2 linked regions of the Homo sapiens genome follow. The protein of the gene in region 2 interacts with the protein of the main gene of each other region in a pairwise test. Each region holds a gene or a part of one and is shown on either strand. Other genes may lie near its edges.

Region 1 (13,206 bases), on a different chromosome or scaffold from region 2:
AATGTGGCATATATACACCATGGAATACTATTCAGCCATAAAAAAGGATGAGTTCATGTCCTTTGTAGGGACATGGATGAAGCTGGAAACCACCATTCTGAGCAAACTATCGCAAGGAAAGAAAACCAAACACTGCATGTTCTCACTCATAGGTGGGATTTGAACAATGAGAACACTTGGACACAGGAAGGGGAACATCACACTCCGGGGCCTGTCATGGGGGGAGGGGGGAGGGATAGCATTAGGAGATATACCTAATGTAAATGATGAGTTAATGGGTGCAGCACACCAACATGGCATATGTATACATATGTAACAAACCTGCACATTGTGCACATGTACCCTAGAACTTAAAGTATAATAATAATAAAAAATAAACCCCTCTGACATGAAAAAAAAGAGGTTCTATTTTGATGTAATTCCAAGATTTGCTTCAAGATTTAGAGCTTGTTTTAGCAGTTCTTGTAGTGCTGGCTTGGTAGTAGCAAATTATCTCAGCATTTGTTTGAAAAAGATTCTATCTTTCCTTCATTTATGAAGCATAGTTTTGCTGGATACAAAATTCTTAGCTGATCAGTGTTTTGTTTGAGGAGGCTGAAGATAGGGCCCTACTCCCTTCTAGATTGTTGGGTTTCTACTGAGAAATCTGCTGTTAATCTGATAGGTTTTCCTTTATAGGTTACCTCAGATTTTAAGATTCTTTCTATCATCTTATCTTTAGATAACCTGATGACAATGTGCCTAGGCAATGATCTTTTTGTGATGAATTTCCCAGGTGTTCTTTGAGTTTTTTGCATTTGGATGTCTAGATTTTAGCAAGGCCAGGGAAGTTTTTTTCAATTATACTCTTCAATACATTTTACAAACTTCATATTTCTCTTCTTCCTCAGGATGGCCGACTATTCTTAGGTTTTGTCATTTATCATAATCCCAGACTTCTTGAAGGCTTTGTTCATATTTTTTTTATTTGTCATTGTTGGATTGGGTTAATTTGAAAACCTTGTCCTTGAGTTCTAAAATTCTTTCCTCTGCTTGTTCAATTATATTGCTGAGACTTTCCAGGGCATTTTGCATTTCCATAATTGCTCCAATGTTTCCTGAAGTTTTGATTGTTTTTATTTATTTATGCTATCCATTTCATTGAATATTTCTCCCTTCACCTCTTTATTTTTTTTTAAATTTCCTTACATTCGGCTTTGCCTTTCTCTGGTGCCTTCCTGATTAGCTTAATAGGTAGCCTTCTGAATTCTTTTTCAGGTAAATCAGGGACTTCTTCTTGGTTTGGATTCATAGCTGGTGAGCTAGTGTGATTTTGGGGGTATGTTAAAGAACTTTGTTTTTTCATATTACCAGAGTTGGTTTTCTGGTTCATTCTCATTTGGGTAGAACCTGTCACAGGGAAGGTCTAGGGCTGAAGGCTGCTGTTCAGATTGTTTTGTCGCACCGGGTGTTCCCTTGTAGTACTCTCCTCCTTTTTCTATGGATGTGGCTTCCTGAGAGCCAAGCTGTGGTGATTATTATCTCTCTTTTGGATCTAGCCACCCAGCAAGTCTACTAGGCTCTGGGCTGGTACTGGGGGTTATCTGCAGAGTCCTGTGATGTGTACCATCTGTGGGTCTCTCAGCCATGGATACCAGCACCTGTCCTGGTGGAGGTGGCAGGGGGGTGAAATGGACTCTGTGAGGGTTCTTAGCTTTGGTGGTTTAATTCACTATTTTTGTGCTAGTTGGCCTGTCGGGTGCTTTCCTGAGAGCATCAGCTGTGGTACTATGGGGAGAAACAAGCGGTGAGTGGGGCCCTAGAACTCCCAAGAGTATATGCCCTTTGTCTTCAGTTACCAGGGTACGTAGGGAAAGACCATTGTGTGGGGGCAGGGCTAGGCATGTTTGAGCTCAGACTCTTTCCTTGGGCATGTCTTGCTGTGGCTGCTGTGGGGGATAGGGATGAGGTTCCCAGGTCAATGGAGTTATGATCTTAGGAGGATTATGGCTGCCTCTACTGTGTTACACAGGCTGTCAGGGAAGTGGGGGAAAGCTAGCAGTCACAGGCCTCACCCAGCTTCCACTCAACCCAAAGGGCTCGGCTGGAGGTTTCCTTTTCCTTGTGGCCTTTCCCCAGTGCTTCTGGCAGTCCTCTTCAAGAACCCCTGTGAGGCAAAGCAGAAATGGCTTGCTAAGGAACCCAGTAAGTCAACAGGGCTTTCCCTGCTGCTTTCTCTACCCCTGTATTTCAGTCCGCTCTCTAAATTGACTAAGCTCCAGGTAAGGTCAAAATATTCTCCTCTAATCTAGACCTTCAGGTTTCCCAGTGGGGGAGTGTGTTCAGGGGTGGATGATCTCCCTTTCCCAATTCCAGTTTGGGCACTCACAGTATTTGGGGTGTCTCCTGGGTCCTGCAGGAGCAAACCACTTCCTTCAGAGGGACTGTGGGTTCTCTTGGTTTTCCTAATGTATTCCAGCAGTCGTTCTGAAGCAAAAGTTCATGATGCAAGCCTACACATAGCCTGGTATACTATCAGATAAGCCTTGGTGCTCTCCTGTTGAACATGAACATTTTCACACATCACCAACTTCAGATAAGACCAATCTATGACCAAAACTGATCAAGACAAAAACATAACTACTGTATAATCAGATCTGAGCACATTAAAATATGTAGATTGTCTCTGCAACAAAAATTACCAAGCATACCTATATCCTTGCTAACATGAGTGAGTGTCACTCCTTTACCAATTATATTCTTAGCCTTATTCTAAGCTTCTGTCCTTCTAGATAAGATTTGTTAAGACACCCAAACATAGAATTCCCCTAGTTCCTGTCAGAATCCAATCCTGAGTGAACACCCACATCCTTTACATCCTCCACCAAATCACACAAATGAAGCTCAGATCTCATAATAAGTCCCTTTCACATCCACTTACTGAGACAATTCTCCATAATGTGTGTTGTCCCTTTAATGAGCAATAAACCCAATTTGTTCAACTACAGGTATATCCTTGGTTGTCAATATCTAGAGGGCATTTATACTCAAAAGCATATTGAGAAAAATTAGAGATCAAAATACATGAAGGGGTACACCATATTAAGGGATTGTAAGACTTGATATTTTAAAAATACTGACTCTCTTAAATTGGGAAATGACAAAATTCCAAGGCTTCTCAAGTATGAATGTTGATAATAAATTCTAAAATTTAAATAAAATGCAATGGGGCATGAATAGTCAATGCAATATTTAATAAGAACTAGAAAACTAACATTACCATATAGTAATACCTATCAAATTAAAACAATTAAGACAGTGTGGTATTATTGCAAGATAAACAACCTGAGAAATGGAACAACATTGAGAAGATATAAAAAAGCCCATACATATTTGATCACCTGATTTACGATAAGCATGATACTACAATGCCATGATGAAAGCTGGGTTTTCTTTTTTGCAATAATGGTGCTTCATAAATTGAAAATTGGTGTGGTATTTTACCATTTACCATGTGGTGGAAATAAAATGAAAATTCGACCTCTTACCTTACATCATACTCAAAAATAAATTCCAGATAATTTTTACATCTCAAAATAAAAGGTAAAACAATAAATCGTATTTGAAGAAGGCACAGAAATACCTCATTGTCACCTTGGTATACACAAAGATTTTTTAAACATAGCTCATAAAGCACTAATCACATAGGAAATTAATTGATAATGTGGACTACACAATGACTAAGAACTTCTGCTCATTGAAAGATAACATTAAGACTGTGAAAATGTAACCAATATATGAGATAAAACATTTGCAGTACATATATTTGACAAAAGACTTGTATCTATAAAGTACAAAACTTTACAAGTCAACAAGAAAAGAAAGACAGATCAGTTGAAAAAAATGGGCAAAACACTTGAACAAGTATCTCACAAAAGAGAATATCCAAGTGGCTGATAAACACATAAAAATGAGGTCAGTGTTATTTGTTACCAGTGATAGGTAAATTAAAATCATAATACCATACTGCTTCACCACTCATTAAAATAGTTATCATGAAAAAGGAAAAAAAAAGCAAGTATTGGTTAAGACATGGAGAAACCAGAACACTCATTCTCTGCTTATGAGAGTACAAATTGGTGTGACTCCTTCTGGGAATTCTTCAAAGTAGCTGAAAGTATGCATAATCTGTGATCCAAAAATTGTGTTCCTAAGTACCCAATATGAGTGTATGCAAAAGTTCATGAAATGACATATACTAGAATATTAAAAGCAGCACTATTTATTCCAAAAACTGGAAATTACCCAAATGCCCATTGCCATTATAATGAGTAAAAATATATATGTTCAAAAAATAGAAAGCTATAAGGCAAACAATCGAATGTTTTATAATCATAAACAACAGTATGCATGAATCTCACAAACATAATATTCACTAAAAGATGTTAGACACGAAAATAACTATACTGTATAATTCCAATTATATAGAGTTTAGAAATGGGCAAAAATGAATCTATGGTGTTAAAACTTAAGATGATGTTTACTCTTGGGACAGAGGGTCTTCAAATGAGTGGAAGGAGGTGTAAGGGGGACCTCTGGTTGCTGGTAATATTCTGTTTGTTGACTGGCTGCTTGTCATACAAATATGTCCAACTTATGAAAATTCATTGACCTGCATACTTATAATTTACACACTTTTATATAGAAATGTTGTATTTAATAAAAGTATGAAAAAAGAGAAAATTAGAAGAACAAATACTAAAATGTTAAAAACAAATATCTCGGGTGGGTGGAATCATGGATATTCAAAAAAATTTTGACATGTTCTTGTATACTCCAACTTAATAATAATCAGGTCTTGTTATTTGAAACTGAATAAATATTATTGCTTAAAAATGAATTGAATCTAAATGCTTATTACAATTTTAGATATAAAGAAATAAATATAAAAATTTGGGGTATAGCTACCACAATATTATAGCCATACAATGTCATCCAGGGATGATATTTTATGTATGTGAATTTTCTATGTAATTATAATGTTCACTTGAGCACCAATCTTTTTTTTAAAAAAAGTTATGATTTTCTGGATTTAAAATTCTGTAATACTTACTTATCTGCCCTCTTAAACAAAAGTTAACTTTTCTTGGTAAGTCGAGGTCATTCATGATTATACTATACAGTAAAGAATTTGAGAAAAATTAGAACATCTAGGCATTTCTGTCCTTGCACTGAATGCCCTCAGATAACATAGTATTTCAGTCACAATGTCAGCTATGAACATTGTTTCCATCTCCTTCCATTTGAATTATCTATCAATTATCACTTCTTGAGGCTACCTTCTAGCTACTCATACTCCCATACTTCTTAATATTCTGCCTTTAATAACCATTAGCCTGATAAGATAAATGACCAGCTTTTTATGAAAAGTGTTTTTTAAAAAGCTAAATATGAGTAAAAAAAATTATAATGATATACCACAATGCACCCACCAGAATGCCTACAATCAAACAGAACAATAATACCAAGTGTGGACAAGAATACAGAGCAATAGAAATTTTTATGCACTACATGGAGTACAAACTGATGCAAGAATTTTGAAAAACTCTCTGGTAATATCTATGAAAACTAAAAATATACATACTTGTGACCTAGTAATTTTACTCATAGACTTATTTCCAACATAAATATACACATAAACTAAAAGAAAAGTGCAAAAAGGTTCATAGTAACATTACTTGCAATAGCCACAAATGGGAAACAAAGCAAATGCCCATCAACAGTTGACAGGGTAAGTTGTGGTACATATTTCTACAATGGTAAACTATATAGTAATGATAATGAAAAAACTACTTTTATATACAACATGGGTAAATAACACAGTGTAGGATTTTGTTGGAAAAAGATAAATACAAATAAATATATGATGTATAATTCTACTAATATTAGTCAAAGTTTGGGTGGAGGCAAAACTAACTGTGATGCTAGAAGTCTGAACAGGGGTTTTCTCTCAGGACAAATGAGTGGGAAGAGATTGGGAGGGAGTGTCATGGGAGCTTCTGAGATGCTGTAATGGTCTGTTTCTTGAGTGGCATCATGGTCAGATGGTATGTTAAATTTATCATAATTTATCAAGCTCTACATTCATGATTTGTTTACTCTGTGTATGCCATATTTCAATATTAACGTGAAAAAACACTTTATTAAAATTGTTCTGGAAATGTATAAAAAGGAGGTCAGGAAGCATCAAAAAAAGTTCAGAATGGAGAGCATGATCTCATCTTTTTTACATTATACTTAAAGAGCGGAAAACATGCCATATGTCACAGTCACAGAGACAGCTTTTTGTTATTCATTTAACAATAACTAGAACTTTTTAGAAACTTGTAGAATAGAAATAGCTGAGACAAGAAGTGTAGCTCAATATGGCCAGGAAGAAGATATCATGGAAGGATGTACTGGGGAATAAAGATGAAGATAGAGAGCCAAGTAGCGACCAACTTGTTAAGGGTTTCAATGCTGTGGAATGGGATCAGGATGTCATTTCAGAGATAAGATGCTGCCATTCAATGTTGCTTTTCTTTATTAGATGGAGGGAGTAGTAGGAGGTTCAACTCGCGACAAACTGTGAGCTGAATTTCAGGGGGAAAATGTACCAAATTGTTTGTTTTTGTTTATAACTAGAGAGCTTAAAGATCTTATCTCAATTTGCCCCCTGGGAAGCACCTATCTAAGACAAGGAACAGGAGCCCTTCTGGGGAAGGTTAAAGACCAGGGTGAAGGGCCCCATCAGGTCTGGCCTTAATCATACCTTTGTAGCAGCTTGGAAGACAGTGCTGGTTTCTACAACACTCTCCCCGAAAAAAGGATCAGCATACAAACCACACATTTCTACCGTCTAGAACATGCACATTCATTTGTGTAAACATTGATCTCTTTAGCCTAGTTTGACTAAATTCGTGGCCCTGAGTTACCTACTTCAGTACTGAAGAAAGCACCTGGGATGTAGACAATTTCAGAGGTGAGTAACCCCCACATGTGAAGACAGTAGCCTCTGAAGGAATTCCAGGGCATAAGATTACTGAATGTAATGTTCTGTGGAATGTAACAGTATTCATTACCATCAAGAATTTAAGGAAGAATTTCAATTGTAACTGCAGATGGCAACCCTATATAAATCTTTTCCCTTTCCAATGCCGCACTGAAAAATGCAACCATCATAGTCTTCAACTTGATGATTGAAGTCTAGGATTACACCTATGTTTTAGCCCAACTATTTTAGTAGAGCTCTCAGAAAATAAAGCAGCTGACTCACCTCTTCCTGGCAAAAGTGTTTGGATTATGCCTCCCCAAACACACGTGTGCTGGCACGCATACACATACATAAACCCTCTGAATAAATAGCTTCTATTCTGACGCTGCCATTCCTGCCCTGTGGGGCCACAACAAGCTTTGACATACTAAGTGAAGAACAGAAAATCCAATCCTTACTGTCTAGCAACCTTCATCCTCATCTACCACCCATTCTAGTGCACTCTGGCTCTAGTCACCGTGGTGAGTGGCTGTTACACAAACTTGTACCTACACTCCTCTAGGCCTTTCCTGTTGCTGTTACTTCAGGTTAGAATACTACTATAAACCCTTCCCATTTATTCATCACTTAGAGCTCAACTCCTTCTTGAGGCTTTATTGGAAACTGCCCGCAATTTAACATACCCCAGACTAAGCTGTAATTCAATACTTACCTCTGTGTTTGTATCACATGTTAATTCACCCTCCATCAGAGCACCTATTTTCATCTATTTTATGAGTCATGTTTAATAAATAAGGTTAAAGATCAGATGGTGTGAGAGAAAGTAATATGCTTGAGACTGACAGACCTGAGTGGTCTCTTTCATTTATTGCTGCTTGACTTTGGACAGGTACATTTACCTCCATGACCCAGTTTCCTCATCTGTAAAATGAGGATCATTAAGAGTAGCTATCTAAGAGCTAGCATTATATGAATAAGTATGAGGAAAATGAAAGCACCAGAAAGAGTGCCTGCACATAGTCAGTGCTCCATAAGTGTTATCTCTCATTATTATTACCATTGTTTGAACATACCCCAGAATGTAAGCTCCACACAAAAAGGGAAAAATCACTATGTTTGTATTCTGATGTACAGCACTGTGCCTGGCATGTGGCATGTGGTCAGTAAATATCTGTTGAGTGAATGGAAGCTTTAACGAGTCTGTGAAATAATTCTAATCGTTAGCGCCCTCCTCCTCCTCCTCCCTTCCTCCACCTTCTGCTCCTCCTCCTCCTCTCTGAATCCTCTACCGCCTGATAGCATGGTGCTTTAAGCCCCACAGAAAAACTTCAAGTGGAGGGAGCATCACTGAACGGCTCCTCATCCCTTGACCCTTTTGCTATATCTGTTACTCCATTTCTCGAATTCTCTTCTCTAACAAGTTCGAATTCAGCAGCAACCACTTCAACCAGCCTAGCCTGCCCTTCAGAGGTGAGGGGGCAGGAATGAGAGACAAAGCATGGAAGACGAGGAGTGGGGCGTGGCCACCACAATGCAAAGACTGACTGCGCCTGCGTAGGCTGCGGCAAAATAACGCTCTGAGGCTTGCAGTCGTTGCTGGCCAGCACTTGTGTAGAAAGATCGCTCTTCACACCAGATTTCACTTTTGATCCTTCCAGCTCCAGGGTCTCGGGCTTCAGCTTTGTGCCGAGGCACCAACACTGCTGCGGTCCTCTCTCCGACTGATCGCTGATCTCACCGTTCCCGCTCCTGTCTCCTGGAACCATGTCTCTGGTAAGCCAGAATGCACGCCACTGTAGCGCAGAGATCACTGCAGATTACGGCGACGGCAGAGGTGAAATACAAGCTACTAACGCCTCCGGGTCCCCCACCTCCATGCTAGTCGTTGATGCCCCCCAGTGCCCTCAGGCGCCAATCAACTCTCAGTGTGTCAACACTTCCCAGGCCGTTCAGGACCCGAATGACCTGGAGGTCCTGATCGACGAGCAGTCCAGACGTTTGGGGGCGCTCAGGGTCCATGACCCTCTAGAAGACAGGTCGATTGCTTTGGTGAATTTCATGAGAATGAAAAGCCAGACGGAGGGGTCTATCCAGCAGTCCGAGATGCTGGAGTTTCTCAGAGAGTACTCAGATCAGTTCCCTGAGATCCTCAGACGAGCCTCAGCTCACCTGGACCAGGTCTTTGGGTTGAACCTGAGAGTTATTGATCCTCAGGCTGACACCTACAATTTAGTCAGCAAACGGGGTTTCCAGATCACCGATAGGATAGCGGAGTCCCTGGACATGCCAAAAGCAAGTCTCCTGGCCCTAGTCCTAGGCCACATCCTCTTGAATGGGAACCGAGCAAGAGAGGCCTCCATTTGGGACTTGCTGCTAAAAGTTGATATGTGGGATAAGCCTCAGAGGATCAACAACCTCTTTGGGAACACAAGGAACCTCCTCACTACTGACTTTGTGTGCATGCGATTCTTGGAGTACTGGCCGGTGTATGGCACTAATCCCCTTGAGTTTGAGTTCTTGTGGGGCTCTAGAGCCCACAGGGAAATCACAAAGATGGAAGCCCTGAAGTTTGTGTCAGATGCCCATGATGAAGAACCCTGGAGCTGGCCAGAAGAATATAATAAGGCCCTGGAAGGTGACAAAACCAAAGAAAGAAGCCTGACTGCTGGCTTAGAGTTCTGGTCGGAGGACACTATGAATGATAAGGCAAATGATTTGGTCCAGTTGGCTATTAGTGTCACTGAGGAGATGCTGCCTATACATCAGGATGAGCTATTGGCTCACACTGGCAAAGAATTTGAGGATGTGTTCCCAAATATCCTCAATAGAGCTACTCTAATTCTTGATATGTTCTATGGGTTGTCTCTGATTGAGGTTGATACCAGTGAGCACATCTACCTCCTTGTCCAGCAACCAGAATCAGAGGAAGAGCAAGTGATGCTAGAGAGCCTGGGGAGACCCACTCAAGAATATGTAATGCCAATCCTAGGTTTGATCTTCCTGATGGGCAACCGTGTCAAAGAGGCCAATGTCTGGAACTTGCTTCGAAGATTTAGTGTGGATGTAGGGAGAAAGCATTCCATCACCCGTAAGCTTATGAGACAGCGCTATCTGGAATGCAGGCCACTGTCCTACTCTAATCCAGTTGAATATGAGCTTCTATGGGGTCCTCGAGCTCACCATGAAACCATCAAAATGAAAGTCTTGGAGTACATGGCCAGGCTCTACAGAAAGCGACCACAGAACTGGCCAGAACAATATAGGGAGGCTGTGGAAGATGAGGAGGCCAGAGCCAAATCTGAGGCAACTATCATGTTTTTCCTTGACCCCACGTGAAGTCTAGGGAATATGTATCACTTCAGCTGAGTGGCATAAGTTAAAGATGCCTTGGTAAAATAGGCATTGGGGCTCTAAATTAGAATCCAGGTAGGGCTTGTGTGGGAAGTACAAATTGTGCTTGCTGTCTGTGTTCCAATTCTAGTAGTATTTCCTTCCTTTTAATATACTCTTGGATTAGGTTAATGACCAATATTTATAAATGGAATTTTTCATTTGCCATCCCGGTCTTGTTTCAGCATAAAAGTTCAGACAGCTCTGTAAAATGTATTGATAATATTTACATCTTTGAAATAATCAGTAAAATGGTCTGGTACAGGAGTTAAATAACAATGACACACACACAACAAAACAAACACAAAACCACTGATCTGTGATTGCTCTCCCTTTGTGTCTACTGCCGTATACATATATACAACTATATATACACAAATATATATATACACAAAACTGTCATTTACCTGTATTTGCAATAAAAGCATAATGAATTAGACCCTATGCTTGTGCATTCATTTATTCTATAGGCATTAAGCACCTGCCATGCTCTGAGAACAGTGCTGTGTGCTGGGAATAAAAGAGTGAAGAAGACCCAGCTGGGCTCCAGAGCTTAAGGGGGAGGGCTCATGGAAGTAAACAAGCAATTATATTATGCTATGGAAAGTGGCATAATAGGCATAAGCTCAGAGTTCTATGAGAGTCCACAAGAATAACTCCCGATTTTAAGTGCTGGGAAGGATAGTGGGAAGGTGATGGCATCTAAGATAGTCTGGGGAAGGTGCAGGGGTGTCAAGCCTGGATGAGTGGGAAAGTAGTCAGGAATAGTGGTGGGAAGGATGAAGTGGTATGGAGGGCTGGGGACAAGATGTGCTTTAGTGACATCTATTGTAAGATCTGAGGTTGGGGAGAGGAAGGGAAGGACTGCTAGTGAAGACAGAAGCAGCGTGTAAAGCACCTGTGAAGAATTTGAAATAGCTCAGAAAGACAATGACTTTAAAGGAGGAGTGGGAGAAATAACTCTGTGGCAGAGGTAACAAGGGCCCATATCCTCAGAGTGACTCTTGAGAGCCAACAATGGCCTTGCACCTTCAGTCAGACTGAAAAATCTACCTGGAGGAACTCTGCAGGGGATCCTCTGCCAATGCAGTTTATTTCAGCACCCAAGCTGTTAAGGTGAGTGTTTGCATTTAGGCTGTCTTCATTCTGATCCCCCTTACAGCTTCTAACCTGTCTCATAGCTCCCCATAAGCCTTCCCTAGAGAGCCAGCAGGTAACAATTTCTGAGACGGAGCCCTGGTATAAGGATGAGTGTCATATGGAAAATCACTTATTACAGAGGGATGGCTGCTGCCTACCGGTAGTGTAGGATCTATATGTCTTCATTTCCTGGCACACAGAAGCTTTCTGCCTTTTTCATCCATTTAATCACCGGGGGCTACTCCCATCTGCTACCTCCTATTAGATGGGAGAGAGTTGGAAGACATTCCTCACATTTTCATCAGCCTCAGGAAGAGAACGACACAATCGTTTCGCTGGGGGAGCGGCAGGGAGAAGGAAGATATGCCGTTTTGTATCCAAAGTCTGGCCGGTTGAGATGCAGAAGCCTAATTAGAGCTGTCGGCCTGGGGATGCCACTGCGCAGGCGCACTCCGCGGTTGCTAGGGCAATACAGCCCAGTCTCAGTGATCTTCCCATCGGTAGCATTCCAAAGTCTGAATGCTAAGGGCAGGGCTTCTAGCGACGAGAAAATGAGTAATTGGAAAGTCTGGTCTGAAAGGGTTCTTGAAAATGGGGTGGGGTGGGGTTGTCAGGCGGGAGAGTATCCAACTCAAAATCTGGGACCTTGGAACAAAATCTTGCCTGTGTGCTAAACAGCAATTCTCTCATTCTTCAGCTCCCTTGGACTGTTAACCCATACATGCTTGTGAGACGGGAGAGGGTATGGAAGCAAGCACGTTAAGTTGCCAAGTTTTTTTTACTCTGACTTTTTGGATTGGTGCAATTTCTGGGTCCACAAACATGTCAGCTCTTCTGGGGGGCTCCAGTAAAGAGAGAAAGAAATCTGCCAAGGGGAACATGTAGCATCTGGACAACGATGATCAATGTAATGCTGCCAATTGTTTTAATACTAAATATGCGTCAGGCACTGTGCTGGGTTCTTCATGTTCTTAGATCTAATCTTTCCACCATTTCTCTAAGAAGCATTTTAATAGTCCCACTTAACACTACAGGAAACTGAGGCTTAACTAATATGCCCAAGGTCACACAGCCAGTCAATGAGAACTGGGCTTGGAGTCCAAGGATCCCCACTCTGGGCCTGTCCAATAATTCCCCTCAAATTTTCTGACTTTTGGAATATACAAAGAAAGGCTGCATGGTCAGAGTGGAGAAGCAAGATGATAGCACTCAGGAGAATGAAAGTGAAGCTGAAATTTCTCCAGGCTCTTCCTTGTTCCACCACTGGGGCTCCATGAGAGCTGTCTTGGTATAGAGTATGCATTTCTGTCCAGTCTCCCTACTCTGACCTATGAGTCTTCTCCAGCTGAACCTCTTCAAGCCTCCAGCCTTATCTGCTTATCTCATTTAGAGAGCGTCAAATATCATCGTTTCTGGAGCTCCAGAAGTGTTAAGTAATTTTTTTGGAATCTTGAAAGAACAATGACCTGAAAGAACTTCTGACCTGCCCAGGGTTGCTCAGAGTTGAAGAACAGAAGTGGGAAATAGCCCTGTGTCACAGAGACCACGTGCAGTTTTCCAGAAGTGACAAGAGTGAGACTTGCAGGGCACATGCCTATGGTGTGGGAAAAGGTATAGTCTCTCTGTGTCCACAGCCATTCCTTTGAAGACCAAGAGAGATTTGA
Region 2 (12,537 bases):
ACCAGTAAATTTAGACCAGTTTGAAATTGTTTCCCATTAGATTTCACCTGAGACCGTTTGGAAATGATCCTTGTTCTATTTTGCACAATGAAACTATTGTAAGTACAACCAAAAGTATATTTATTTTCTCCTTTACTAACTTACTTTTAAAATTTAAGTCTATGTTTTCTAACTTAAGTAACAAAATGACAGTTAAACATTTTAATATATTAATTATAAGCACTCAGACACATTTTAATACCATAAGCAAATTACTAATTTTTATATGTAGACTGTTATTTATTCTGTTTAACAAGAAGTCCTCTTACATCTTTAAAGTGCTGTGGAGTTAAGGTCTAAACTAAATGATATCCAGACATTTTCCTTTCTGAGTTTTCAGTTAAATAAGAATCCAAAAACATATGCAGAAGGACGTACCAGGAGGAAGAAGAGATCTCTCTCTCTCTTTCCTACACACACAAACAAACACACACACACAAACACACAAGCAGAGAGAGAGATTGAGAATTTTCTGTATCATAAACAGAGATGAAGGTCAAATACATTTTTATCTCCTATACCAGGATAATGTGCTAAAACATATTGTTCAAAGAGGCTATAGATGTTAAAATAGTGACTACACAGAATTTGATCCTGAAGAAACTCTATTGTTAACATTTCACAGCACAAAGCAAACATACAGATTTTAATTTTCTTTCCAAATCTAGCAACTTAATAATTTTTTAGGCACAAATGTGGTTAATTAACAGACTTAAAGGAATTGGTTTAAGGTTACAGTATAGAAATAACTCAAATAAGCAACTTAATTCAATAGAATTGTCCTAGAATAAAGTTGCACATCAAGATTTTATAATAGAAGTGTTTTGCAAGAGCAATGTTACAAAGTTTAAAACTTTTAATAGTAAATGGAAGAACACAAATTTTATTTATTTATAAGATGTAAACTTATTAAGGAGCAAAATCATTAAGACCTGGCTTTAACAATAATGAAGGAAAAGTGATGAAATATAGTACGAGGAGAATATACTAGAATACCTTTTATATTCTACACCAAAGCATTAGTAATGCATGAGTAACTGTATTGCTAAGATTCCTTGCAGCTATTCTAGATTTACATTAAGAATTTTATAATAAAATATAAAATTAAAGAACATTTTTAATGGGCTGTGATCAAAAAAATATCTTTTAAAAGCTATTCTATCTTTTCACATGTAGAAACTAACAAAAGAAAAATAAATTTCCTTAGCTAAAAAGTTAAAAGTATTGCTTTTCAATTTATACTCTAAATCAATTCAAGTGCTCTTCTTTAACTGGTATTTCCTTTAAAAAGCAAAAATTCTTACATAAAAGCAACGTATTAACTTCAAAAAAAAAGTTGCTAGTCAAGACTTTAGCTTGTTTTAATCCTGGTTTCACATTCACATAAAAGGAACTGAATGTTAAAGTGTCTTGGTAAACAGCTGAAATCTAATAAAAACAAACATTCTAAGGATCTAAAACACTTTTGATATTGAAGCACAGAATTTAGTTCCAACCTACTTTATTCTATTTTAGCACTCAAATTTTGAAGCCTGGAAGCCTTACTAAGTGTTAAACTAGAATTAAGTAGGAGTTCCAACAACAAAAAATATTAATGGAGTAAAATAAACTATGTGAAACATGCATGCTCTGGGGAATATCTAACATGCAGATTTAGCCTTTCAAGTTATTTCATTCTTTGCATTACATTTTACCTTAAAAGGTTCCCTAACCTGTATTAATTGCCTGAAGGCACACTGTTTAATATTTAAAGAAATTTTAGTAAGAACTGCCTGTAATACTCATTAAAAGCTTTATAATGACCATTTTTAAAAGATTATTTTAACTGACTTTAAGCAAGCCATCTGGCAAACAATATTTCTAATAAAAATCACCTACTGCGTTTGACAACAATATTAGCCCATACAAAATTTAAGACATAAACTGAAGCGAATTTTCAAACAGGAATATAAAAAGATTTAATAAGCCAGGACCTGTTTAAAAATCTTTTTCCAAACTTTTTTAAAATTGAATTTACAGTTAGGATTAAATAAATGGACCTTTTAGCCAACATTACTGCAAATACTAAGCCATAAACATTAAGACCATAACATTAAAATCCCGTCACATACAGTATAATATAATGCAAATACTTTTTAAAAGGTTAAAAAGTGACTTTTGGCACAAAGACCAGAACCAAAAACAGGAGGAAAAAAATTCTAATAAGTAGTACTTGTGTAAATTAGGTCCAGAGATTAATTATAAGAATTAAGCTTCTAGACATATTTACAAATGCTATTGTTTTTTAAACAAAATCTCACACATGAACATATACAGAAAAAGAAATACGTTCTTTTACTTAGTTAATAAGGATTCAAGAGGATAAAAATAAATTTAATGAATTCATTAGTCATAAAAATTTAAAGTATTTTAACATTTATAACATTGTATAAAGACTGAAAAATAAACATAACAAAATCTAAAAATAAGTTTAAAAATGAAAACCAGAAATTCAAACTGCAGTGGTATTCTAAACCAATCTGTTGTAATTAATTGCACTAATGAATACAGTAAATTACTAAGAATTATTTAATCATCATGTTATATGATCTAAACACTGAGGAAAGTATGTGCAGTAATGACTTGCAGGTGAAGAAAACAGGAAGTGGGAGAAAGAACTCACAAAAATCAATATTAACTCCAGATTACACACAATGTACAACAATGGTAGTTTCACATCTTGCTTCATGCCTCACTGAATCAAAGGGGAGCTTCATGTCAATAGCAGCTCAATGAGGCAGCAAAACAGTACTTTAAAGACTAAAAGAATATGCGGCTGGGCGCGGTGGCTCACACCAGTAACCCCAGCACTTTGGGAGGCCAAGGCGGGTGGATCACAAGGTCAGTAGTTCATGACCAGCCTGGCCAAGATGGTGAAACCCCATCTCTACCAAAAATACAAAAAAATTAGCTGGGCATGGTGGCAGGCACCTGTAATCCTAGCTACTCGGGAGGCTAAGGCAAAGAATTGCTTGAACCAGGGAGGCAGAGGTTGCAGTGAGCCAAGATCACGCCACTGCACTCCAGCTGGGGCACAGAGCAAGACTCCATCTCAAAAAAAAAAAGGGAAAAAGAATATGCAAGAATAATTGTTATGCAAAGCTGGCTAACCTCAAAATAAAATCTAAAAACTTTTTTTATTAGATGGAACATAAAATGTTAAAAGCATATTTTCTATCAAAGTTCTATATTTGGGATTAATTCAATTAATTATATAGAAGAGAAGCATTATCCAAAAAAGAGCCTGTAACTCTTTGTATAAAATGATAAGGGGAAGAATCTTTCAATAAAACAATTATAATTAGTAACTATATACTAATAATTAGTAACATCAATTTACTAATTCATTTTTAAAGTTTTTAATTTCTCACCAAACAGCTACAAAAATATAAAATACAACATGTCATTTCACTGTTAAAGCCATACCTGCCACTTAATAGTTTCAAGAAAGAACTAATGAAAGTTGCTAGGGAAGGCGTCATTATTCTATTTAATATGCTGGTGTCCTCATTTTTAGAGCCAAATTCACATTCCAGTCATAGAAAATAGAGTTTTATGACAGTGTTTTCTATCTAAGCCTCATGAATGCCCTTACCCTTATTTTTCCTTTAGTTTCTCACCTCCTTATAATTTAAGTAATCTTGCTTTCTCTTTTTTTACTCCTGGTTAACTGACTTAAATGCTTTTTTGGCAAAAGCACAGTAGAAGAACACATATATACATATTTTCCCCAATCATAGGATAATAGCATTATCAACTAGACAAGAAAGTTAAGTGTATTAACACTGCATACACACACACACACACAAACACAAAAGCCTCAGGGAAATAAATTATATGAACATAAAGGGAAAGAGAAGAATGCAAAAAGACTTTCCTGGAGAGGAAGATTTTCCGGTTTGTGAAGTCATCAATATCATACAGGGTTATAAGTATCAAATAATATAGTAATAAATCCATGAAACACTTCATAAACCTTAGTTATTATTACTGTCATTATCTAACAAGGTTGACTACCTAGGAAGCTAATTGCTGGAAAACAATAATTTGCAAAAACCCCGCTATTTCTTTCAAGCAAAAATACACTATTTTTTTATGCAAAAATATAAAATATATTGTCACAAAGTAAACAGTCAATATAAACTTCAGCATGGAGCCAAAATGAGCTCATTATTAGAAAAATAGTATTAATCAGGAGAAAAGTGCTTCAGAAACAATGTATTTTAGTCAGTTAGCTTAAAGCCATATAAACAATCTATCAAGAATATACTGGCTCATCTCAGTTATAATGTCACTCTCTCATCTGAAAATAAAATGGATATTAAACAAAAATCTTTTTAAAAATATAGAAGTAAAATATACTAGAACCTCATTTTAACATCGTTCTTAGAGTTACACAAAGTAAGTAGTGCCATGTCCACAAACAATACTCTTATCTAGGAAATCACTTTAAATCCTTCATAGTAGTTGGCATGATATAAATAAATAGGCATAAGGGTAAGACAAACTACAATATGAAAATGAAAGTCATTTTCATAATTCTTATCACTAAACTCACATTGGGATAGAGACTGAGTATCCCAAATGAATTTATATTATGCCAAATTCTAGAAAAACATAGTTTTCCCCAGTACATACTGTGTGGACTAAAGATGGCCATCACACTCCCATTAGGAGGTGAGATCTATATCCATTCCCTTTGTAACTGAGTGGGCTCTTTTACTAATATGGTGGAATCAGTGCTGTGCCAGTTTCCTAGCCCAAGCCCTAAAATGTTAGCATCTTCTACCTCCTTATTCTTGGGATATTCTCTCTTGTAACCCTGAGCCAACATGTGAGAAGTACAATCACACTGTTACAGAAATTGATGCAGTTTCTGATGTAGTCAGCCCCTTCACTAGATTCACGGTAAGGACTCCCCTCTACTAGACCCACTGCACTCAACTCTATGTGGGAGGGAGCACGTGGGTGAGTCAGCGCAGATCTAGCCAGCTGCTCCAAGCACCAATACAGGAACAAGTTTTGCATGGGGCCCGCAGTCAGACCAGACACAAGCAAGCAAGTGCAGGACCCAGCCATCCGCCCCAGGCACGGACACAGAAGCAAACTCTACGTGGGGCCCACAGCCAGACCAGGCATGTTGCCTCAAGGGGAACATGGCAGTGCCCAGGTGAGGGGGCCCACAACCCCAAAGCCCCAGGGGAAGTGTTACAGTGCTCCTTTAGTTCTGCCATCAGACAACAGTGTGTTGGCAGCTCAGTTGGCTTCTGGCCTTGTCACCTAGGGCAGCTGCTCTCCACCAGGAAGGGCAAAGTGCCAGTGTGACAGCCTTTCTGGGTACCCACACTTGGTGGGTCCCAAGCTCTTGTCTGGCATCCAAGAAGAATGAGGTCACAGGGATGGTTAAAAGATGGCGAAGGTGATAATTTTATTGAGCGATGAAAACAGCTCTTAGCAGAGAGGGGAGCTGGAGAGGGGACAGGAAGAGCAAGTCGTCTTCCCCGAAGTCAGGTTGTCTCTTCCTCTACTTACTGAGTCTGGGGTCTTTATAGGCACAGGATGAGGAGAATGTGCTGAATTAGCTTATGAGTAAGCAAAAAAGGTTGAAGTGAAGACACTACTCAAAGATGGGCATGACAGTGTAGAAAACCAATTAGGAAAGGGTAGATATACATAAAATAGGTGAAGAGTGGGGATCAATCAGAGGAAAGCACACCAAACAGGAGGACAAGTTCTCAATCTGGTCCAAGGATTTAACTTGTAGCTTGGCTTTCAGGTTTTAAACTGTCTTCAACATGGAGATGGGGTTTCTCTGGGTACCCGTCCCTATCTGCCTAGGCATTTGGCTGCCTCCTGTCGCTATCAAAACCACATGGAGAGGTGTCCTGAGAATACATTAGGGAAGCAGAAAAGCCCAAAAGAACCACTTAAATTCCTAACCCACAGAATTGTGAGCATAAAAACATATTGTTCAGTGTGGATGGAGGGCAACCTCTTATTCAGCAATAAATACACTGATATCAATACATAACCAACAAAACTAAAGGTGAACCAGATTACAAACACTGTGGAAAAGCCCTTTAAATGCCATCATCCAGCCTACTAGGAAAGGTAAATCCTGAAGAATGTTTTTTACAATCACAATTAGCATTAATACATACCAGCTCATCTAAAAAAGCCTGCTTATTCTTCCTTTTTAGAATCTGCTGCAGTTGTTCTTCTTTTTGTATAAATAATCTTCTTTGTTCATTTTCCTGTCGTTCCACTTCTAAAGCTTCTTCCAGTTCTTCCTGTTCTCGAGTCTAAAACAAAAATTTATATATGGCGTGGAATAAATTTAGGAGCCAAGAGCAATCATATACCACACTCTAATACTTTCTTTATTGGAAGCATAAAACACACTAGTCACTTATTATTTAATAATGTAGCAATTCCATATTGAAGAAAATAGAATTTACTTTATTTCATGTAGACACGTTACTATTAAATAAAACAACTATTCTGTTATACCATACTAGTGGAATTTTGCTATACTAAGGCCACTGGGAACATATTAAGGGAATTTGAGGGATGAGTTTAGAAAGATGACTAGAGGCAGTAAGGTATACATAAAGATCAATTGGGTTCAAGACTGACAATAGGAGGACTAGTTAGAAGTATATTCAAATAACCCAGATAAGAAATAAGAGCCCTACGCAGCGGCTCACACCTGTAATCCCAGCACTTTGGGAGGCCACGGCGGGTGGATCACAAGGTCAGGAGTTCGAGACCAGCTTGGCCAACATGGTGAAACCCTGTCTCTACTAAAGATACAAAAAATTAGTCAGGCATGGTGGCACATGCCTGTAATCCCAGCTACTCGGGAGGCTGAGGCAGGAGAATCGCTTGAACCCAGGAAATGAAGGTTGCAGTGAGCCAAGTTCACACCATTACACTCCAGCCTGGGCAACAGGGCGAGGTTCCATCTCAAAAAAAAAAAAAAAAAAAAAAGAAAGAATAGAAATAAGAGCCCTAAATAAAGTAATAATCTAATTAGAGTGGGGATGAGGCTTAAAAATGATAAGGAGTGATCATCAACAGAATATAAAGACTGACCAAATATGGATTGAACACTTGGATGAATGCTGGCACCATTCACTGAAACAAAGAGCATAATAAGAGACAAAATAGACTTTAATTAAAAAACTGTCAAAAGAGACAAAGAACATTATATAATGATAAAAGGATCAACATATAGAAAGATATAACAATTATAAACAACTAAATATGTAAAGCAAACATTGACAACTGAAGGGAGAGATAGACAGCAATATAGTAACAGTAGGAGACTTAACTCACATTCAGTAATGGATGGAACTTTCAGAAAGAAGATCAGTAAGGAAATAGGAGTCTTAAACAACTTTATAATTCTGTATATTTCTGTTATAACAACTAACAGAAATATACAGAACATTCTACTCAACAGCAGCGGAATACACGATCTTCCCAAGCACACACAGAACTTTCTACAGGATAGGTCACAAGTTAGGTCACAAAACAAGTCTTAACAAATTTAAGAAGACTGAAATCATACCAAGTATCTTTCCTGACCACAATGGAATAAAACCAGGAATCAATAGCAGAAGGAAAACTGGAAAATTCACAAATATGCACATATGTGAAAATTAAACAATACACTCAAATAATCATTGGGTCAAAGAAGAAATCAAAAAGGAAATTAGAAAATACCTCAGGACAAACAAAAACAAAAACATAGCATACCAAAACTTGAGGGATACAAAAAAGCAGTACTAAGAAGGAAGTTTCTTGTGATAAACACCTACTTTAAAAGAGAAGAAAGATCTCAAATAACAACCTGGCTTTACATCTCAAGGAGCTAGAAATTTAATAACAAACTGAGCTCAAAGTAAGCAGAACAAAGGATTAAAATAAATAACAAACATTAGAGCAAAAATAAATGAAATAGAAAACAGAAAAAGAACAGAAAAAATTAACAAAATTAAGTTTTTTCAAAATATAAAATTGACAAACTCTTTGCAAGACTATGAAAGAGAGAGAAGACTCAAAATCAGAAATGAAAGAGGAGACATTACAACTGATGCCACAGAAATAAAAGGATCATAAGAGACTACTATGAACAATTATACACCAACACTTAATTATATTACGCTTCAGTTAATCTAGAAGAAATGGACAAATTCCTAGAAACATACAACCTACCAAGACCAAATTATGAAGAAACAGGAAATCTGAAAAGACCTAGAACTAGTATGGACACTGAATCAGTAATCACACCTCCTAACAGAGAAAAAGCGGCAGTGGTGAATTCTGCCAAACATTTAAAGAAGAATTAATATCAATCCTTCTCAAACCTTTCTAAAAAATTGAAGAGGGAGACACTTCCAAACTCATTTTATGAAGCCAGCATTATTACCCTGATACTAAAACCAGACAAAGGTACCACAAGGAAAGAAAACTGTGAGCCAATATCCCTGATGAACAAAAATGCAAAAATTCTCAACAAAATACTTATAAACTGAATCCAACTGCACATTAAAAGGATCATACAACATAACCAAGCAGGAATTATCCTTGGGATGGAAAGATGGTTTGACATACAAAATCAATTAATATACATTAACAAAATAAAGAATTAAAATCACATAATCATATCAATACATGCAGGAAAAGGCTTTGATAAAATGTAACGCCCTTTCATGATAAAAGTGGTGGCTCACATCTGTAATACCAACACCTGGGGTTAATGAAACATTTTACCTACGCATACCTATTTTGCATGTATCTTCTGATGTTCCCAGAGAAGGTTACTAGGCAAAGAGAGTAACATTAATGACATACTGATGCTCTCAGAAATAAGATACTTTTAAAAGAAAGCTAGGCTAGCTATGAATGGAATGAAAATGTAGTATCAATTCATTGAGAGTTTTACAGCAGGAAAGAAATGCTGATATAAAACACTATAAGACTACAAGGAGGAAGTCTCTTCTAAATACAAAATGAAAATATAAGCTATGTGATCCAAATATACTTGTATCCTTTTCACTGATTATTACAAAATCCTGATAAAGTATCTCAAACGTAATTACCTCTGCTTTCCCCTACAACTAGAAAGCCAAACTGTACTATAGAAATGATAGCTAAAGTGTATAAATTAGACAATTGCTCCTTTGCATGCATACAATTTTTTCTTTATAGAATACATTCTAATACATATAATAATAATGACTCCTGAGATATTTTCAAAACAAACTTCAACATGAGATCAACTAAAACAAACCAAAATCATATTTATATCTAGCAATGTTACTCTTTCGGTAAAACAAAAAAGGTAACTAATTGAGAAACCAAAGTTAACCTTAGTTTACAAATGTGTTCCTCTGATCTAATCATGAATTCATTTTAGTTTCTAATAAATAGTGTTTTTGTTTTATCTCCCTCTTGGTAGCTCCATCACCGTCTGTCTGGGTTTTCTCTCTCCTTTAGAGAAATTAATGTCCAAGGATAAAAATGAGCCTCCAGTGTTTTGTGACCACTGTCCAAATGCTCACTTACCAGAAGATTATACAGGCAGATAAAACTAGCGTTAACAATCACCTATCTTACGGATCCACTTCCTTAAGAAAGCACAGTCTAACATAATGCTGTCAAAGTGGTTTTTGCTACAGTAATGTGTGCCTGCCTACCTACATACCTATACAGCATATATTCATATTTCTGGTCTAAATTTCAGCTAAATTTTCTATAAATGTAACTGGTTTAAAGGAAGATGGCTTTTTAAAGTATCATGTGGAAACATTTGTTTCTAAGACAAAATAAGAAGAAAATACTTAGCAACCGACCAGCTTTAATTTATTTTTCTGAATAACATCTTTGTTTTCCTTTTGGTATATCTCCATTTTCTTTTTGGTGTTGTCCAAATCCACATTGTTGGTCAAGTTGAAAACTGCATTAGAAAGGAAACGATGACATGAAAAATATTTTTAATATAAATCTTGAGTAGACAATAAAAAACAAATACCACAGTGACTCATTTGTTAGGTTGTCATTCTTTATAGCTCTATTTGTGACCTTTTAATCAGCTACCTATTTTAGAGACTAGCTCTAGTTACGGCAAACATGTTTTCCAAGCCAAACACAAGGACAGACTGTCTGACTCGCACAAAATACCTAAATGTCAGGATCACTCCAGAAAACCTAAGATATGTGCTTAGATCTGATTTTTATAGTCCCCTCTCTAGCTTTAAAAGCATAAAAAAATTGTTTAAATTTTTTTAATATAAAGAGTAAGTCTGGAATCTACTACAAGAATCAGAATTTTAAAAAAAGAGTTAAAAAATCATATATTTTTATAATTTATATCAAACAAAAAACAGGTTTTATCCCCATTCCAATTGTCTCCAACATGAGTAGACACAGGCTTGAATTACTTCCCTTGTAGTCTAGCTCTAGAAACGTATGAAATAAAGGAGTTGGAACTTAAGAAGAAAAATAAAGGATAAACTGGCACCAAAACTTAAAGTAAAAGAATTTCTTAAGAGAACCACTGAGACATGTTTAGATACTACTAAATTTTCTGTAAATTACAACTCTCTTTTTATAATTCCAACTCAAAATAATTTGAATTATGAATGCCATATTCCCTTCTAATTTTCCATATGTAAATCAAAGTTACTATAATACTCTGAACAATTAAAAAAAGACCTTCTTGCTATATATAAACTCATATGGAGGAATCCATATCAGTAAGACTCTCCTGTTCCATAATTCAATTCAAGCCTCCTTTAGCTTCCCTTGTAATCTTTCTACATCCATTATTAGCCCTTCCACCCCTTCTCCAATTACTTACCACTGCTTCCTGCTTCTTGCCCTACAAACAAGACGGATCTACCCTAAATAACTCTGCTCTATCCCTTGGGTTTCTACAGATTGCTTCCCCATCTCACTCTTTCCTTTAATAGCTTATAAGAGTTGAAAAGTAACACCGGAGGACCAACACAGAGTTGCTTGTTTTGTTGAGTAAAGCCATCAAACAGACTCAAATGACCAGTTTGATCTATAATTTCATTTTTTTCTTCTCAAAAGGCCAACTTATTTCAGAACATCAATTTATCATAATCACTGTTGAAAATCCAGGCTCATTTAGGTATAAAGGCAAAAGTCTATTCAGTTTTATCATACGCAATTTTAAATCTGGAAGAATTGAGAGAAAATGAGAAGCAATTATCCTCTAGCAACTTCTCCAGTTTTTTAACATAAAGTGGGAAAGAAAATAAGTCAGGGAATCTGGCTAGGATGCAATGTGGGACAATCTTCATAAATCACACTCTAGTCCTGACACAAAACAGTCAGAGGGAGGCTCCAGACAAGCAGCACTCTCAAAAAGTTACCTCTGATCCTTAGTTAAAATGGTGATTCCACTATCTTTACCAACCACTCAAAATCTACCTCTTGTATTTAATAGGCCATCCTCTAAGCAACCAAATCCAATGATCTTTCACAACTCTCACCATCCTCAACATCTACCAGATCCAACCTCAGCCTCCCAAGTAGCTTGGATTACAGACATGCACCACCATGCCTGGCTAATTTTTGTATATTTCAGTAGAGACAGGGCTTCACCATGTTGGCCAGGCTGGTCTTGAACTCCTGGCCTCAAGTGATCCACCCGCGTTGGCCTCCCAAAGTGCTGGGATTACTGGCGTGAGCCACCATGCCCAGCCATTAACCTAGGCTATCTGATTCCAAACCTGAACTTTTATCTACAATGCCTACAAAACTAGTTGTGTCATTTCTCTCAATGCCTGAAAACCACTGCTACCTAGCAGTCCTCTGCATTTGTATGCCCCTACACTTTCCCATTTCCATACCTGTGATTAAACTGTTCCCTACCCATAGGGCTCATCTCAGTACCAACCTCAACCCAGAACAACAGTGAATATCCACATATGACTCACCCTTCTATACCCATTTTAATGACCAGCTCCTCCTTATGAGACACTTTGCAGTTACAATCTCTCCATCCCTGAATGCTTACAATACATTGTCTAATATCGCTCTGCTGGCATTTACCCACTTCCTACCCTGTATAATTATTTTCAATGTGCACATCTTGTCTGACCTATTAGAATGTTCCTTGAGGGCAGTTTCTAGGTCTGATTCATCTTTATTATCACTTCCACTACTTCTAAGGCACTCCTATTAGAATGGCAAAACTCCAATGACAACATAAAATGCTGGTGCAGATCTGGAGCAACAGGGACTCTCATTCCTTGCTGGTGGGAATGTGAAATGGTATAGCCACTTTGGAAGACAGCTTCCTAGTTTCTAACAAAACTAAACATACTCTATCATATAATCTGGCAATCAAGCACCTAGGTATTTATCCAAATGAATTGAAAACACATGTTCACACAAAAACCCACACATGAATGGTAACAG

The links.
Region 1: the proteins of MNAT1 (region 2) and MAGEE2 interact in a two-hybrid assay, tested with the Homo sapiens proteins (one study listed by BioGRID).

What each region holds. Positions count from the first base shown.
Region 1 is NC_000023.11:75,780,622-75,793,827, reverse strand, and holds MAGEE2 (melanoma-associated antigen E2), read left to right. Parts: upstream 1-8,573; 5' UTR 8,574-8,776; coding exon 8,777-10,348; 3' UTR 10,349-10,841; downstream 10,842-13,206.
Region 2 is NC_000014.9:60,805,830-60,818,366, reverse strand, and holds part of MNAT1 (CDK-activating kinase assembly factor MAT1), read right to left. Parts: intron 10,043-12,537; coding exon 9,939-10,042; intron 6,381-9,938; coding exon 6,240-6,380; intron 1-6,239.